Linked DNA regions of Homo sapiens: region 1 is linked to region 2. Evidence: fine-mapped expression QTL. Tissue or cell type: whole blood. Region 2 holds a variant in brackets; the other region holds the start of a gene. All regions are shown on one strand. Distances are between the middles of the regions.

The links. PIP is the estimated chance that this variant, and not a neighbour inherited with it, causes the effect.
Region 1: it holds the start of MFF, and the variant in region 2 is fine-mapped to the expression of MFF in whole blood (INTERVAL, PIP 0.99).

What each region holds. Positions count from the first base shown.
Region 1 is chr2:227,320,596-227,328,702 of GRCh38, reverse strand. It overlaps MFF (mitochondrial fission factor), which reads right to left and starts at 3,452. Exons shown (of 9, transcript NM_001277062.2): 1 at 3,276-3,452; 2 at 1-25. MFF-DT (MFF divergent transcript) reads left to right here and starts at 3,539. Exons shown (of 14, transcript NR_102371.1): 1 at 3,539-3,585. RefSeq lists a silencer at 3,111-3,400 and enhancers at 3,581-3,630, 7,369-7,897.
Region 2 is chr2:227,352,953-227,361,060 of GRCh38, reverse strand. It overlaps MFF (mitochondrial fission factor), which reads right to left. Exons shown (of 9, transcript NM_001277062.2): 8 at 5,300-5,384; 9 at 3,228-4,075. The coding sequence ends at 3,944. Among named protein-coding and RNA genes, the nearest start is that of TM4SF20, 22 kb to the left of the region's middle. The variant T/C (reference allele first, on the strand shown) is at 4,939.

The sequences.
Region 1 (8,107 bases), 32 kb after region 2:
GCTGGATTGAGAGCCACTTTTGTCCCTGGGGAAGAAAAACAGGGGCTAATTGAGAAACTAGATGAAACCACTATTAGGGATTCATTACTGGAAATTCTCCAAATAGTAACAGTCACAAAGATGCACAACCTGACATCAAGAGACCAGTAAGAAAATAAAGAAAGAAAAAAATTAAGCTTACCACCAATCTTAGTTCCACAGATGGGGTCCTACAACTATTCATTAGTTAAGGCAATATAAAAGACTAGCTCTGTCATTGTTTCTGATTTGTATTTAGAAAAATGTGGCAGATGAAAAATACGTAAGTTTAAATGAATCTAATACTTACGTATATATATGCATATAGGTACACATATATGTTAAAGAAGAACAAATGAATTGGTTTTTTTTTTTTTTTTTTTTTTTTTGTCACCCGGGCTAGATTGCAATGGAGCTTCCTGAATAGCTGGGACTACAGGCATATGCCACCACACCCAGCTAATTTTTGTATTTTTTGTTGAGACAGGGTCTTATTATGTTGTTCAGGCTGATCTCAAACTCCTAGGCTCAAGAAATCCTCTGGCCTTCGTCTCCTAAAGTGCTGGGACTACAGGTGTGAGCCACCGTGCCCGGCCTGTTTAAATTTTCATTCACTTACGATGTTAAAATTTTGAACTAGTAATGCATGTACTCGGTACAAAGTACGCAAGCTATACAGAGAAAAGGAAGTGTCCCACTTTCAATCCTATCCTTAACCACCCAGGTTCCCACAGGCAACCTTTATAATCAATTTTTGTGCATCATTCCAGATGAGATGCTCTTCTAATACTTGCGTGTATCTCAAGCATAGCAAAAGCTCATATTCAGAACTAACACTGAAAAAAGCTACCTCAAAAAGATTATAGCCTTTGGCCATTATAAATTGAAGTTTTATAATAATAAACGAGAACCAAGTGGCTAGAACCTCAGTATCTCCTTGAAATGTGCTTTCTCTGCATTCCATTCATTGCATTTCAGTCTTACGAACTTTCTAGTAGTACATCTCATAGGTCTCACTACTATATTCCATTCTATAGCAACATCTTTTCTTACGAGAATATCTGAGTTTGTAAAAAACTAGTGACTTAGAAAATAAAGGTGGATGCTGAAATGCCAACTTCTGGAAAAAGCCAAGTTCTCCTGTAGCTGAACTACTTACATTTAAAAAGTAACTGGATTTCTACTAAGATTTAACACTGTATTATCCCAATTATTGGGTTTTCTGCTTAAAACCAATCAAAATCTGATTTTTTTTCTCCCTCGTTAGACTGTGGCATTTCTGATAATATCTTTTGGCAATAAATAAACGTCTCATTTGGTGTTGATATGTTAATTCCAGAAGTTTTGTACCTTAGAATCCAGTAGGCAACCAGTACGTGATTCTGTTACATAACAAACGAGGCAAAATCTCTCTTAGAATCACAGATGATTTCATATTTCTACTTTCTAAGCCCAGTGGTTCCCAAACACCAGTAACTAACTTGCCAACTTCATGGGTTTTTTTTTTCCCATATTCACAGAGTACATTAACTTTTTGCTACAGTTAATTTTTTTAACTCGACTTTTTAAAATCAAAAAAGTATTGTAAAAGAAAATTTTGTATCACTACCTTAAACCATGGCTGTACATATATAAATACAGATTGCAAAAACATCCTATTACAAAAAAATCCTCATCCACGTACCGCCTAGAGTCAAGTCACATGCCACTAGCGGAAAGTGTACCAATTTTGGGACACAATGATTCCAGCCCAACTTTCTCATTTTCTGTATTAGAACACTGGAACCCAGAAAGCCTCGGAAGTCACCGAAACAACTTGAGTCAAACTGACTGTGGTTGCAAATGTTTATGTACTTTTCAAAAACAAACATACAAACAAACAAAAACAAACCAAAAAAAACCCTCCAGTTGTTTATTACCTACTGCGTGGACCTAGTTCACACAGATGGGCCACTCTGCACACCCTGTTTCAGTTCTTTTTCAAAGAAACTATATTTAAAAAGTCACTGCAAACTTTTAAAACTATATATTAATGAACTTTAAAATAAGGTTATGAACCCACAGAAAAGTTTCAATACCAGAAGAGAGGAGAGCGAAGACTAAACTTTGCAATTCTGAAAGGAGGCAGCTCTATCAGACAGGAAGGGAGAGAACACAATTTCCTTTTGGAAAAAATGGCAAAACCAATATACAAGCCTTTGAAACCAAAAGATAGAAGGTCCCCCAAGCAATTTAATTGCATGGGAAAAGACTACTAAGTATAACTAAATCGTCCTAATTTTCCTAAGGGTTTTTCTTTTGGGCTCTCATTAGCCAACGGAATTGAGGCAGAAAAAATGTTTTTCACGCAGGGAGACAAAACATTTGTGATCATCTTAAGTCTCTCGGTGGATGAGAGGCCTGAATACAAATGGTTCTATATTTGGGCAGAAGGGCCAGAAACCTTTTTTTTTTTTTTCCCCTTTAATGTTCTCCAATGAAAACATGTCACTTTTGAAAGGGTGCTCTTCCCTCGAGAATGCCCTTTGCTTCTAACTTTGTGGGAGGTAGACAGGGGTGTTCTTTTACGATAGTAATAGTAGCACACGTCCTGCAGAGGAAGGTCAGAAGCTCGGCGGAACAGGAACCGCAGCTTTCCTCCGGCTTCCCAGCTCCTGGAAGGAAACCCGAGAGCAACTGCCTGCAGCCACATCTGCGAGCAGGGATGCTCACAGACGGACAGGGTGGCCCGCAGCCACCCGCGATGCCACAACCTGGGCTTCCAACAAGGCCCTTCTTTTCCAAAATGTACTTGCCACAAAACAACACAAAAACCTCCTTTTAAACAAGGCAGGTTTAAGGTCAGCCTGTAAGGTGTCAGGGCCTTGGCAGGGAAGGATGAGTGAAGACCTGCAAAGCCCGGCGTTCACGCTCACGGGACTCCCGCTGCTTCCCAAACCCCTATTTTCCAGTCGGAAAAGTCCGGGTTAATACACAAAAGGAGACGCCGAACCACACAAGGTGAAGAGGTTCGCCCAAAAACACCTGCAGAAGACGCTCCTCTCCCTCGCTCTCCTCGGGGACTCAAGGTCCCGGGGAGGAGGAAAGACCAGGGTTGAAGGCAAGAGGCCCGGGGACGGGACTCGGGTCAGGGAGACACTACCGGGGGGGCCGGGGCCACCGCGGGTCCCTGTTGGCCGGAGGGTCTCGGCGGCGGCGATAGGCCTGGCAGCCAGCTCGGGCGGCAGGTCGCGGGTCGGGAAGACGTCAACACTCACCCCTGGGCCCACAGGAGGGTCCCGGCGAGGACCCCCGCCCTCTGGCTCCCGGGGCGCTCGAGTGGGCGCTCTCAGAGGTGGTTGGCTGAGAGCACGGAGGCGCCCAGGGACAGCACCGGCGGAGCGGCCCGCAGAGGGCCAGGGCAGAAGCGCGAAAGGCGCGGGCTGGCCCCTTCTGGGAGCCGTAGCGGAAGAGTGTTCGTGGTCATGTGACGCGGAAAAGGGCGGACGCGTGGCCCACGCACTGGAACGGCTCCACGGTAAGCGATGCGCAGACATCTTTGTTGTGGGCGAAACGAGGTGACCGCAGGTGACTCCTCTTGCGGTTAAGTTTAATTCACACTTCGGCTTTATTAGATTTTGTAATCTTTAAGAACTTGGTGTTTGCAAGGTAAACCTTTGGTAGCCAATTAAAACAACTTTTTCAGGACCATCTGGCATGAAAATTTCTATGCTGTGAGGCTTAGGAATTCTCATATGTAAATCAGCTCCGCCAGTGATTCCATGAGTTCCAATTTGATACTTCTTAAGCCCTCGGTTGATCAGACCTTGTCTTCCATGAGAATTCCGGGAGAGGGGAAGTTAAGTTTCACAGTAGTTGGCGGCATCGTTTAGCTTTGGGAGAGCACTCTCTGCTTCTGAACACCCAACCACAGACTCTTCCCCCCAGGAAGCCCTTGCTTAGAGCGGGGGAAAAATGGTACAGTGCTTGTCAGTATGGGAATGTACTGAGGCCAAATAATGTGATATTTTATATGCCTTGGTTTTCACAAACACCTAAAGGTGTACACATGACTTATGTACTCCCCTACGATCTAATTGATATTCTAGAGATGTTACCATTCTTCAAAATGATTTGGGAAGCCCTCTGAATTGCGTTCTTGGGCTTCTTAACACTGGTGTAGGGAAAGTGAAAATATTTCCTCTCCCCTCTTGGGGTCTTGGCTGGGCCTAAGAATTAAACTGATGAGGAAAAGAGTCAAACTCTAAAATATTTGAAGAGATTTATTCTGAGCCAAATGTGAGTGACCATGGCCCGTGACAGAGCCCTCAGGAGGTCCTGAGAACATGTGTCCAAGGTGGTTGGGGCGCAGCTTGGTTTTATGTATTTTAGGGAGGCATGAGACATCAATCAAATAAATTTAAGAACTACATTGGTTTGGTTCAGAAAGGTGGGACAACTCAAAGCAGGGGCTTCCAAGGCTGTAGGTAAATTTAAACATTTTCTGGTTGACAGTTGAAGACCTGGGACCCATAGAAAGGAAATGTTGAGGTTAAAATAAAAGATTGTGGAGACCAAGGTTCTTTTGAAGTCTTATAGTGGCTGCCCTTAGAGACAATGGATGACAAATGTTTCCTATTCAGATCTTTAAAAGGTGCTAGATTCTTACGTAATCTCTTTAGGATTGGGAGGACCTGGAAGAAAATGATCTAGCTATGTTAATAGAAATTCTATGTAGATGCAGATTTTCCCCCAACAAAGGACAGCTTTGCAGAGCCGTTTCAAGATATGTCAAAAACTAAAAAAAATGTTTTGCGGTAAAATATTTTGATTTTGTTTCTTGTCTCGTTATGCCAGTGTCAGATTGGAAAGTAAGTCACAATATATAGGGTTAAATAAAACCCATCTGATGAGAATTTATGGATTGTAGGGCATGAATCCCTAGGCCCCTTAGATAGGAATTTGAGCAAGATTAAAAAAAAAATCAGAGCTTAGTCTCCACTGACGTAAAATAGAGACATAAAACATAACAGGAGGAAAGCATACAAATTTTATTTAGTAATTTTTACATTTACATTGGAGCCTTCCCTAGAAAAATGGAGACCCAAATTAACAGTTGGACCCTAAGTGCTTTTGAGTCTCCATTTTTCTAGGGAAGGCTAAAAAGAGTAGTAAATTGTGAAAATGTGAGAAAACAAACAGATTTGGGTTAGTGCAGTTAATGCAGAAGTGACTAAGAAGATAAAGGTTGTTGTAACAAAGTGGAAATGAAAATCGGTAAGTTTGTGCAGATACAGCTCAGCTTTGACTCCATGTCTCTGGTGTTGAGAACATCTCCCTTCCTCCTTATACAGGGAGGGCACCTTTCATACGGAAGTTTTATCTCCTGCTTTCAGGAAGGAAAAAGGAAAGCCACAGTGCTCTTTTTGCATTTTTTTTTTAAGTGCCTTTGACTCGAAAATAATCTTTATGCCAAAGTGCCATATTTTGGGTTGGCATATCCTACTATTGACAGAGCAGAAGCACTGCCATTTTAAAGTGCCCCTTGATCAAAAACCACCTAAATCCAACCCAGAGGGCATCAGCCTAATGGCTGTCAGCATGACCACAAACCACAAATGACACCTCCGACCAGAAACATTCTAACTCTAAGATAAACCCCTCTCCCACCAGACACATGCCAGCCCCAAGATAACCTTCCCTCTGACCGAGCGATGTCAGCCCCAAGATAACCTTCCCTCTGACCGGAGCGATGTCAGCCCCAAGATAACCCCTCCCCTCCAACCAGAGACATTCCAACCCTGTAATAAACTTCTCCTCCAAGCAGAAATATTCCAAGCCTGTGATAAGCTCTCTCACCCTAAACCCTTAAATACTCTTAGTCTGTAAGAGAGAGTGCTCCTGACCAAAATTGGCCAGAAGCCCCTCTCAGGTTTATTCTCTAAAATAAACCTATCCTTGATTGTTGAGCCACTTTTTGTGTTTCTCTCTTCTTTCTTTAACTCTTAACAACTACCCTACAGAGACAAATAAGCCTTTAAGAATAGATTGATTTTTAGGAATAATAAGTCATTCCAAGTCAATCTTTTGTGGGAAGATAGAGATCAAGTTGGGAGATCATGCATTAGGTTGGTTCTGAGGACTAAGCTCTGATTTTTTTATCTTGCTCAAATTCCTATCTAAGGGGTTTGGGGAGTCATGTTCTCCAAACCATAAATGCACATCAGATGGGTTTTATTTAACCGTGTATATCATGACTTACTTTCCAATCTGACTCTGGCATAATAAGGAAGAAAATAAAAATATTTTACCCAAAAATATCTTTCCTTGCCCTACCTTGAAATTGTCCTGCAAAGTCTCTTATGGGAAAAATCCACATTCTGTAGAGAATCTGCTTTCCCCTTTGTTTTCCTTCCTTCTGTGTCCGGAATTGGTGGGTTCTTGGTCTCGCCGACTTCAAGAATGAAGCTGCGAATACTTGCGGTGAGTCTTACAGTTCTTAAAGATGGTGTGTCATGTGTCCGGAGTTTGTTTCTTCAGATGTTCAGATGTGTCCGGAGTTTCTTCCTTCTGGTGGGCTCATGGTCTTGCTGGCTTCAGGAGTGGAGCTGCAGACCTTTGCGGTGACTGTTACAGCTCTTAAAGGCAGCACATCTGGAGTTGTTCATTCCTCCTGTCCAGAGTTATTTGTCCCTCCTGGTGGGTTTGTGGTCTTGCTGGCTTCAGGAGTGAAGCTGCAGACCTTCGCGGTGAGTGTTACAGCTCATAAAGGCAGCGTGGACCCAAAGAGTGAGCAGCAGCAAGATTTATTGCAAAGAGCAAAAGAACAAAGCTTCTACAACATGAAAGGGGACCCCAGCAGGTTGCTGCTGCTGGCCCAGTCAGCCTGCTTTTATTCCTTTATCTGGCCCCCACCCACATCCTGCTGATTGGTCCATTTTACAGAGAGCTGATTGGTCCATTTTACAGAAAGCTGATTGGTCCATTTTGACAGGGTGCTGATTGGTGCATTTACAATCCCTGAGCTAGACACAGAGTGCTGATTGGTGCATTTACAATCCTCCAGCTAGACATAAAAGTTCTCCAAGTCCCCACCAGATTACTAGACACAGAGCACTGATTGTTGCGTTTACAAACATTTAGCTAGACAGAGAGTGCTGATTGATGCATTTACAATCCTCTAGCTAGACATAAAAGTTCTCCAAGTCCCCACTAGATTAGCTAGACACAGAGCACTGATTGGTATGTTTACAAACCTTTAGCTAGAGACAGAGTGCTGATTGATGCATCTACAATCGTCTAGCTAGACATAAAAGTTCTCCAAGTCCCCACTGGATTAGCTAGACACAGAGCACTGATTGGTGCGTTTACAAACCTTTAGCTACACACAGAGCACTGATTGGTGTGTTTACAAACCTTGAGCTAGACACAGAGTGCTGATTGGTGCATTTACAATCCTCTAGCTAGACGTAAAAGTTCTCCAAGTCCCCACCAGATTAGCTAGATACAGAGTGCTGATTGGTGCATCCACAAACCCCGACCTAGACACAGAGTGCTGATTGGTGCATATACAATCTTCCAGCTAGACATAAAAGTTCTCCAAGACCCCACCTGACTCTAGAGTCCAGTTGGCTTTGCCTAGTGGATCCTGTGCTGGGGCTGTGGGCAGAGCTGCCCTCCAGTCCCGTGCTGCGCACATGCACACCTCAGCTCTTGTGCGGTCGATGGGACCAGGCGCCGTGGAGCAGGGGGCGGTGCCCATCAGGGAGGCTCAGGCTGTGAGGGAGCCCATGGTGGGGGTGGCTCGGGCATGGTGAGCTGCAGGTCCTGAGCCCTGCCCCGTGGGGAGGTGGCTGAGGCCCGGTGAGAATCCAAGCGTGGCGCAGGTGGGCTGGTAGTGCTGGGGGACCCGGCGCACCCTCTGCAGCTGCTGGCCTGAGTGCTAAGCCCCTCACTGCCTGGGGCCAGCGGTGCTGGCCGGCCACTTTGAGCGTGGGGCCTGCCAAGCCCGCACCCACACGGAACGCGTGCTGGCCTGCGAGCACTGCACACAGCCCTGGTTCCTGCCTGCGCCTCTCCCCCCACACCTCCCTGCAAGCTGAGAGAGCCG
Region 2 (8,108 bases):
AACTAGAACACGGTGACTAAAGACACAGTTCTGAATGTCCAGCACAACCTCTGGCCTGCAACTATGTTCAGTGATGATGATAAACAAGGTGGTGACTTGGAAGGAATCCCTATGTCAAGTGAGAAAAAAAAATGATGTCTGACCTCCTTATATATGTAAAAAATATACCTTCAGAGTCCGTCAGTAAGCTGGAAGAAGTGGATGTTGAAGTTTTTAACATCGATGATGGGTCTCCAGTTGTTCATCAACCCATGGTGAAATAGCTGAACGGTTCTGAATCAAAGGTGATCCTAATAGTGAAGACATTAACATTGCAGAAAAAGTGCCTACAGATTATATGGTGAAAATACGTGATGGGCTTCTTGAAGGACTAGAGCAGTGTGTATTCAAAACAGAACAAGAAATCACGTCAGTTTATAAAAGCAAAGAGAGGTTTCTCAGACAAAAACATTGTTCATGAGGTAGATGACTCTGGAAGAAATACTTTAAAAAGCCACTGAGAAGAATGCCTCGTCTCCACAGGATCCACTTCCTAGCCTCTCAACTGCTTCTCATGTTTCTTCTCACTGAAAAAAATAGTGTCCAGTAATCTTTACTCCAACAGTACCGCCAGTGGGGACAGGAAACTTGCCGTGGCTGTTCTTGGTTGTGGCTGTTGTCTAACAGCTGGTGCAGTATCTGGTGATGCCCCTGTGCTGCTTAGTTACTTGAACGCAGTTTTTTCACTGTATTAATAGTGTGTCATTTTTTAATGTTAAGTATTTATGTGTGAAAAAGTGTTAAGAAAAAATGACTGTTTATTGGCAGCATATACACTCAGAGTCAGGAATGATAGTGATGGCAAAAAACCCGACTGTCCACATGCGTGGCTGAGATATCACTATGACATCTTTGCTTTTTGCTTTCTGATGGTTCAGCATACACAAACTTTGTTTCATACACAAAATTTGAAATATTGTATAAAATTATCTTTAGGTTATGTGTAGAGGGTATGTATGAAATATAAATGAATTTCATGTTTAGACTTGGGTCCCATCCTCAAGATATCTCATTATGTATATGTAAATACTTGAAAATCTGAAAAACTCTGAAATTCAAAATACTTCTGGTCCAAAGAATTTTGGATAAGGGCTGGGCAATCACTATAGTTAAGGAGCTGGAAACACACATTCATGCAGGAAGGAAGGAAAAAGGAAAGCTCTCTTGAAAATATACTACTTCCATGATGTTATCCTTCAAAGTGTAAACAACCTGCACATACTTCAACCATAATTACTAGAAGTGGGGAGAAGGGTGCACTTTCAGTAGTGCAACAATATATTTGCTATACTTAGTTGTATGATACGACTTTGGCTCCTGACTGTATCCATTTCTCCCTCTATCATCTGCACCTGGAATATTTTCTTGTTCTTTCTCTGCTTGTTGAAAGGCTCAGCTCAAATATCTGGTTATACTAACCAGGAACTAATTTGTTCTTCTCAACTCCAAAATATATTTCAACAGTAATTAACAATTTTTAGGGGAAGTACACAGGTGTTTAATAGAGATCCTAACTTTGGAGTTAGAGAGATTCAAGCTTTTCTACTTCTAGATATGTGACAAGGTCAGGTAAGGCAGGTTTCTTGGTTGTCCCCTTTTGCACTGTAAACAGAGTTTTCATTCACCGTCTGTTGGGGTCTTAGCTTCATTCACGAGTCTCCTGTTACAGCTGGTGCCTGCCTGAGGTAGGGAAGTCGATCTTCTACCCCTTGCACAATCATTAAGGGAGAAAGCTCCAAGTGTCCATTCTTTGGTAAGAATCATGAGGGAAAAAAAGGGCTTCCGCACTTCTCTCTCAGTATTCCTGCTTTTATTTCATTTTTTGACCTTTGTGGAATCCTTTTCATGTCTGTTTATCAAAAGATACTAACCTTATCCATCATTTTTCTTCATTTTTGTGATTTCAATTTGGAGGATAACCACAGAAATTACCTTCTGGTATACATAAATCTAGAATTAATATAGTTGCATCATTACCAAAAGTCAGAAAACTTCTAAGTACAGAGAAGAATCTTTGTCTTGATATTATTTTAGAGGGATAAGAAGCAAGAACGGAAATGCTAAATCTAACTCTATCCAAGGAATTTCCTCAACTGCCTTTCCCCAAACTCCCTGCCTTGGAAGAAAGATACCAAAGATGTGTGGAGAATGTTGCACCTAACTGAATTCTACCCATTTCTGAACCGAAAATGGGGAAATATAAGTTTTGAGAGCTAAAACTGTCTAGCACTTGGCTTCACTTGGTTTAATTCTTTTGAGATTTACTTTTAAATTTTTAGTTTTTTTTTGAGACGGAGTTTGGCTCTGTCACTCAGGCTGGAGTACAGTGGCATGATCTCAGCTTACTGCAACCTCTGCCTTCTGGGTTCAAGTGATTCTTCTGCCTCAGCCTCCTGAGTAGCTGGGATTACAGCTATTGCCACCATGCCTGCCACCACACCTGGCTAATTTTTGTATTTTTGGTAGAGATGGGGTTTCACTGTATTGGCCAGGCTGGTCTCGAACTCCTGACTTCAAGTGATCCACCCGCCTAGGCCTCCCAAAGTATTAGGATTACGGGCGTGAGCCACCACACCCAGCCTTGAGATTTAAATTCACCTATATATAATTAGCAAATAAATACTGCCATGAAAAAAGTATATACAACTCTGGCTGGGCGCAGTGGCTGTAATCCCAGCACTTTGGGAGGCTGAGGCAGGCAGACCACCTGAGGTCAGGAGTTCGAGACCAGCCTGGCCAACATGGCGAAACCCTGTATCTACTAAAAATACAAAAATTAGTTGGGTGTGGTGGCCAGCGCCTGTAATCCCAGCTACTCTGGAGGCTGAGGCAGAAGGATCACTTGAACCTGGGAGGTGGAGGTTGCAGTGAGCTGAGATCATGCCACGGGACTCCAGCATCAGCAACAGAGCGAGACTCCATCTCAAAAAAAAAAAAGTATACACAACTCAAGGTATTTAAACCTGAACCACTTTATAGATATTATAAATTAGAAAACCACCTACAATGCAACCAACAGCCACCACCACCAGGATGAAGGTCTGAAAGGAAGCACAGCAGGTTCTTGCTACCTACCAGGTCATTAATTGTATTACTTGCTCTGAGACGGGAAGACTCATAAGGTAATATGATACAAAATGTAGCTGATTGCACAAATGATGAAATAAAATCCTTCAACAGACAAATACTTCTTTGGTTGACAGTTTATTAAATACACTACATTTGTACCTTATTCTGTCGTTTTTTAAATTGTTCACGCATGAACTGAGTAAAAACGTACTTTATAGAAAACCAAGTGCAAAACTAAAATGAAAGAATGCACATATTGCACACATATGAAACTGCTGCAATGTTAGAAATTAATCTGTACAAGTACCTAATGAAGAAGGTTATGAAATATTAGGTGGTTCGAGTTTCTTAAATCTGGCACCAGACCATGACTTTGAAAGTGTTAATGTTGAAGTGTCGATGCAAAAATGTCTATTAACAAAACTGCTTAACACTGTTTGAGAAACAGGACAAAATAATTGTTTTTCTTTCACAGACACTTTTCTGAATCAATTCTCTACAGACTCTCTCCCATTCAGAATCAGTTGGGTGGACTGATGAGGCAAAAAATAAATTCCTTTTAAAAAACAAAACTGGAGCCTATTTACAAAACATGCAAAGGGAGAATTTTAAGCAGGTGTTACTGCAGAACTGCTCAGACGTGAATACAGCTGAGTGACAGAATATACCTTTACTTCTACAAATATAGGTCCTTCCTCCAGACTTTCTGGAAGAAATACATTTTCAGGGTGTGGACTATAAAATGGCATACAATGCAGAGACAGAAACAAAGAAGTTTGCAAATCTTTTATATTTCCAGCTGTTGAGACAGTATTTTTGAGGGCTGATGTTACCTCTAGCGGCGAAACCAGAGCCAGCTATTAAGCAGCCAGAAAGCTACAGTAATTGAATACATGACCATTTCTCTTTTAGCACGTTCTTTGTTCTCCTCTTCCAGAAGTTGTAGACGTCTATTTAGTTTGATTATCTAAGTGAAAAACAAACACACAAAAAATATAATATAGAGGCTTTAATGAATAGGGCAATCAGATTCTTATAAAGTAAGTAGTATAATAATTTGTCAACAAAAGTATTATTACAAACATGGAAAGTTTCATTTGGAGCAAAATAAACACAACTACACATAGAAAAACATGTCATTCATGACAGCTTAAATTCACTTAAACATCCTTTCCCTTTCCCTTCTTCAGATTTCTGAGTTAGGAAGGGTGTATTTCCTTCCTAACTTGATTACATAGTGAGGTGAGGAAGCGGTTACCTACTGTTATTCTGGCAGAAAAGACTCAGTATGCATTTTGGCAGGCTTACCACAGCAGAAAGAATACGGGACTCCTTCCCCTTTCTATGCCTCTCCTATGAACTTGTCACTCAACCTCAGTTGTTCATCTTGAACCTGGCATAACCGCCTTCTCTGTCCACCTCTGAGTTACTGAGACAATCCAATAAAATAATCTACTGTAGGGGGCCTTGGGATATGGCACCCAAACCCTTCAGGCCTGAAGGCTAATTCCCCAGCTGCTGGAAATGCTGCTGGCTGACAGTACCATCCTTGCTGTTAGCCCTTACTGTGAAAATCCCAGGGCTGAACAACCACCTGCTAAAGCTTGTGTTCTCCTACTGATCTTCACCTAAAAATATCTTATTTAATCCAATTTCCCTCTATATCTATTTGGTATAGACGCAATGAGAAAACCAACTATGCCTTCTTCACATGTGTGTATGTCTGTGTGATACTCGAGGCTGTGGGAGTACATATTAAAAAATATGCATGTGCAACTGCAGTTCTAAGAAAGGATTTATTACAGAATACAGGAAATACGTATGCAGGGA[T/C]GCTGTGCAAGCTGCAAGGAGCGGTTTCCAAAATGGAGTTATTAAACACAGTAACAAAGGTTCCAAAGTAATTGTTCCACATTTCAAAAGCCAAACAAGCAACTGATGGCTGTACTGGTTTGCTAAAGATTCTTTGTTACTGGCCAGAATTACATTAATCTATCTTGGTAATACTGTTTTACGGTGATCAAAACATGTAAATGGTAGTTTAATATATCTTTAATCAAAATGAGAAAATCAATGATGGCTTACTAGTTTGATAGTCCCACAGGAGAGAAAATAATAAAATGTTGAGAACTATCACTTTAAAATATTGTATGAATATAACTGAGAAATATATCTTATTTGGTACACTAAATACCTGTCGTCTTAGTGAAGCTGCATCTACAACAGTCAGGTCATCTGACGTTCCTTCAATGGTTGTATCTATATTTGAAATGCCATACCTGCAGATAAGAGATAGAAATACAAATGAATAGTAAAGTAGAACTCAGAGTAAATGGCACGCCACATCATGCTTTGTGTAATGCTCAAAGTAGTATTCAGAAAATTGGTACTTAATAATATGAATTACTAAAATATTTTACTACCTGAATTTGTACTAATAAAGGAAAGAAAAAAGCTTAAAATGACAACTGTCTACAATATTGAAAAAGGGCACTAAAAACTGGAGAATGGGAAAAAAATCCTGACTAAAGAAACACATAGAAAATTCTCAAGCCAGAAGGATTGGCGATGCTAAAAAGGGTCCCTGGCTGAAAAGGTTTGAGAGCTGCCACTTAGGATAGAACAAAATATAATTCTTACACAAACTTATGTCCATATGTAAGCCCATAGGCACAGACTCACTAGCAGGGAACACAAAGTAGACTAACTCTAAAAAAAGAAAGACTCATCACCTCTTCTCACTGCCTCTTGTCTTGCCATTTTTATTCTTTACTTCTTGTCTTTTTATTTTTTTGAGACAGAGTTTCACTTTTGTTGCCCAGGCTGGAGTGCAATGGCACAATCTCGGCTCATTGCAACCTCCACCTCTGGGGTTCAAGTGATTCTCCTACCTCAGCCTCCCAAGTAGCTGGAATTACAGGCACCTGCCACCATGCCCGGCTAATTTTTGTACTTTTAGTAGAGATGGGGTTTCACCATTTTGGCCAGGCTGGTCTCAAAGTCCTGACCTCAGGTGATCCACCCACCTCAGCCTCCTAAATTGCTGGGATTACAGGCCTGAGCAACCACGCCTGGCCTATTCTTTACTTATTTCCAATTACTTATGCTCTACTGTGTTCTCCCGCAGAAACAATTATAAAATCTCCTGAATACATCTTACCACTACATTTAGCTCCAGAATTGGCCCAATAATGAATAAAATGCTGTGTATAAAATAATACTGAAAAACCATTAAGACAAAATCCAGAGAAAGCATATTAAAAAAGTACTTTTTGTTCCAATGTAGTTACTTCTAAAGCGGCACTAATTTCTAGGTGAATGACACTAAACCTCTGAAAAACAAAGACAAACGCCATTCCTCTTCTTTGCCTGGATTTCCACATTTTAAAATTTAGTTTAATTAATAGCTTCATTGAGATACAACTTATATAACCACATAATTCACCTCACATGTATTTTATACCCTAAATGGTTATTTTAGTAAAATGGCATAGTAAATTTTCTAAATGAGCAGAATATAAATAAACTAAATTAAAAGTTATTCCTGTGTAGTCCAGAGAATTGGCAAATGGATCATCTATTCTAATACCTATCCCAGCAAGTCCCCACTACAAAAAGTACATACCCACAAAAAGGGATATGAAGCAGAATTATACTTTTCATCCAGACATGTTAAAGACAAGTCTACTCAGAAAATCCTTTTGTTTTAAATATTGTTAAAAGTAATAAAAATACTTTAATAAAGTATGCAAAAAACCTTAAACAATAGATGGTGTGTACTGACTCTAGATAATCTACAACCATCTCCAAATATTCCTTCTATGGCTAAATTATCCTGCTTTCTCATTAACTGTCTCCTTATTTCATGAGAACACAGTAAACAACCTGGAGCAGTTAGGGTAATTATACCAGTTAGAGAAGTAAACTTCTAAGTTAGTAGATGCTGGAACTATGGGTTTACAAATGATTAGTGGAAAAAATAAAGGTAGAAGATTCCCTTTTCCTTCACTTCATCCTCAAAATAAAACTCTTCTCTTTCTCTGAGGCCACATAACAGAGGAATAATTAGGAAAAAAATCAAACAGAAGCAATTGTTAAAGGGATCTGAACTGAACATACAGAATGAAGTACAAATGAAAGCGATTACTCACAATTTATATCCTGAATTAACTAAGGTTTAGATATCTGAAATCTCGATTTGCAAAGAAATATAAGGATATGACAAAAGATTTTACCTATATACTTCAATTTAAAACAAAAATATGTTACTTTACATTGTGTTTTAAACAAAAACCGTATTTATTAGAACTAAAAAACTCTAATGCTAAGTTAGACCACTGGCTGAAAATACTCTGACAGAAAGATAAAAGATCACAAACTTAGAGAAAAATATAAGGGAAAACGACAATGAACTGAACTAAGATTGTAAAAAGAAACAAGTCAGCAGAGTGGTAAGGGATTACCACAGGCACGCTTTTCAATTCCTCCACCATGAATTCAATTTTAATGAGCAGCTAATGCTTCCCTTTTCTCTTGCTTCAATGAATGCACCAACTTCTAAGCACAGAAACGATGCTGCCAGTTTTAAATCTACTGCTACCGACAATATATTTCTGCTTAAATAAAACTGACTGAAAAAATTATACAGTAATAGCATCTGTGAATACCAACAAGTTTTTGATTTTTTCCAGACTATAGGAAAACTAAATGGGGATTTTGGCACTTAAGAACTGCATGTATTTGTATGTGCCATTCTGCCAGCCTCTGTGCGTGTCAGGAAGAAAGGAACGCTCAACCTACGCGTGTCTGAAAGTGTAAAAAGGGCAAAAATAAGAGAGAAGGCCTTAAATCAACAGATGATAAAAATGCTTAAAACTAAATTTCCTTTCTAAATATGTACCTTCCCAAACTGTGGAGTTGTTAATGCTGATTTCTCCCAATTTAAGATGAAGCCTTACAAACAAAGACAGGTTTGTTCACACACTAAAAGTAACATTCCAGAT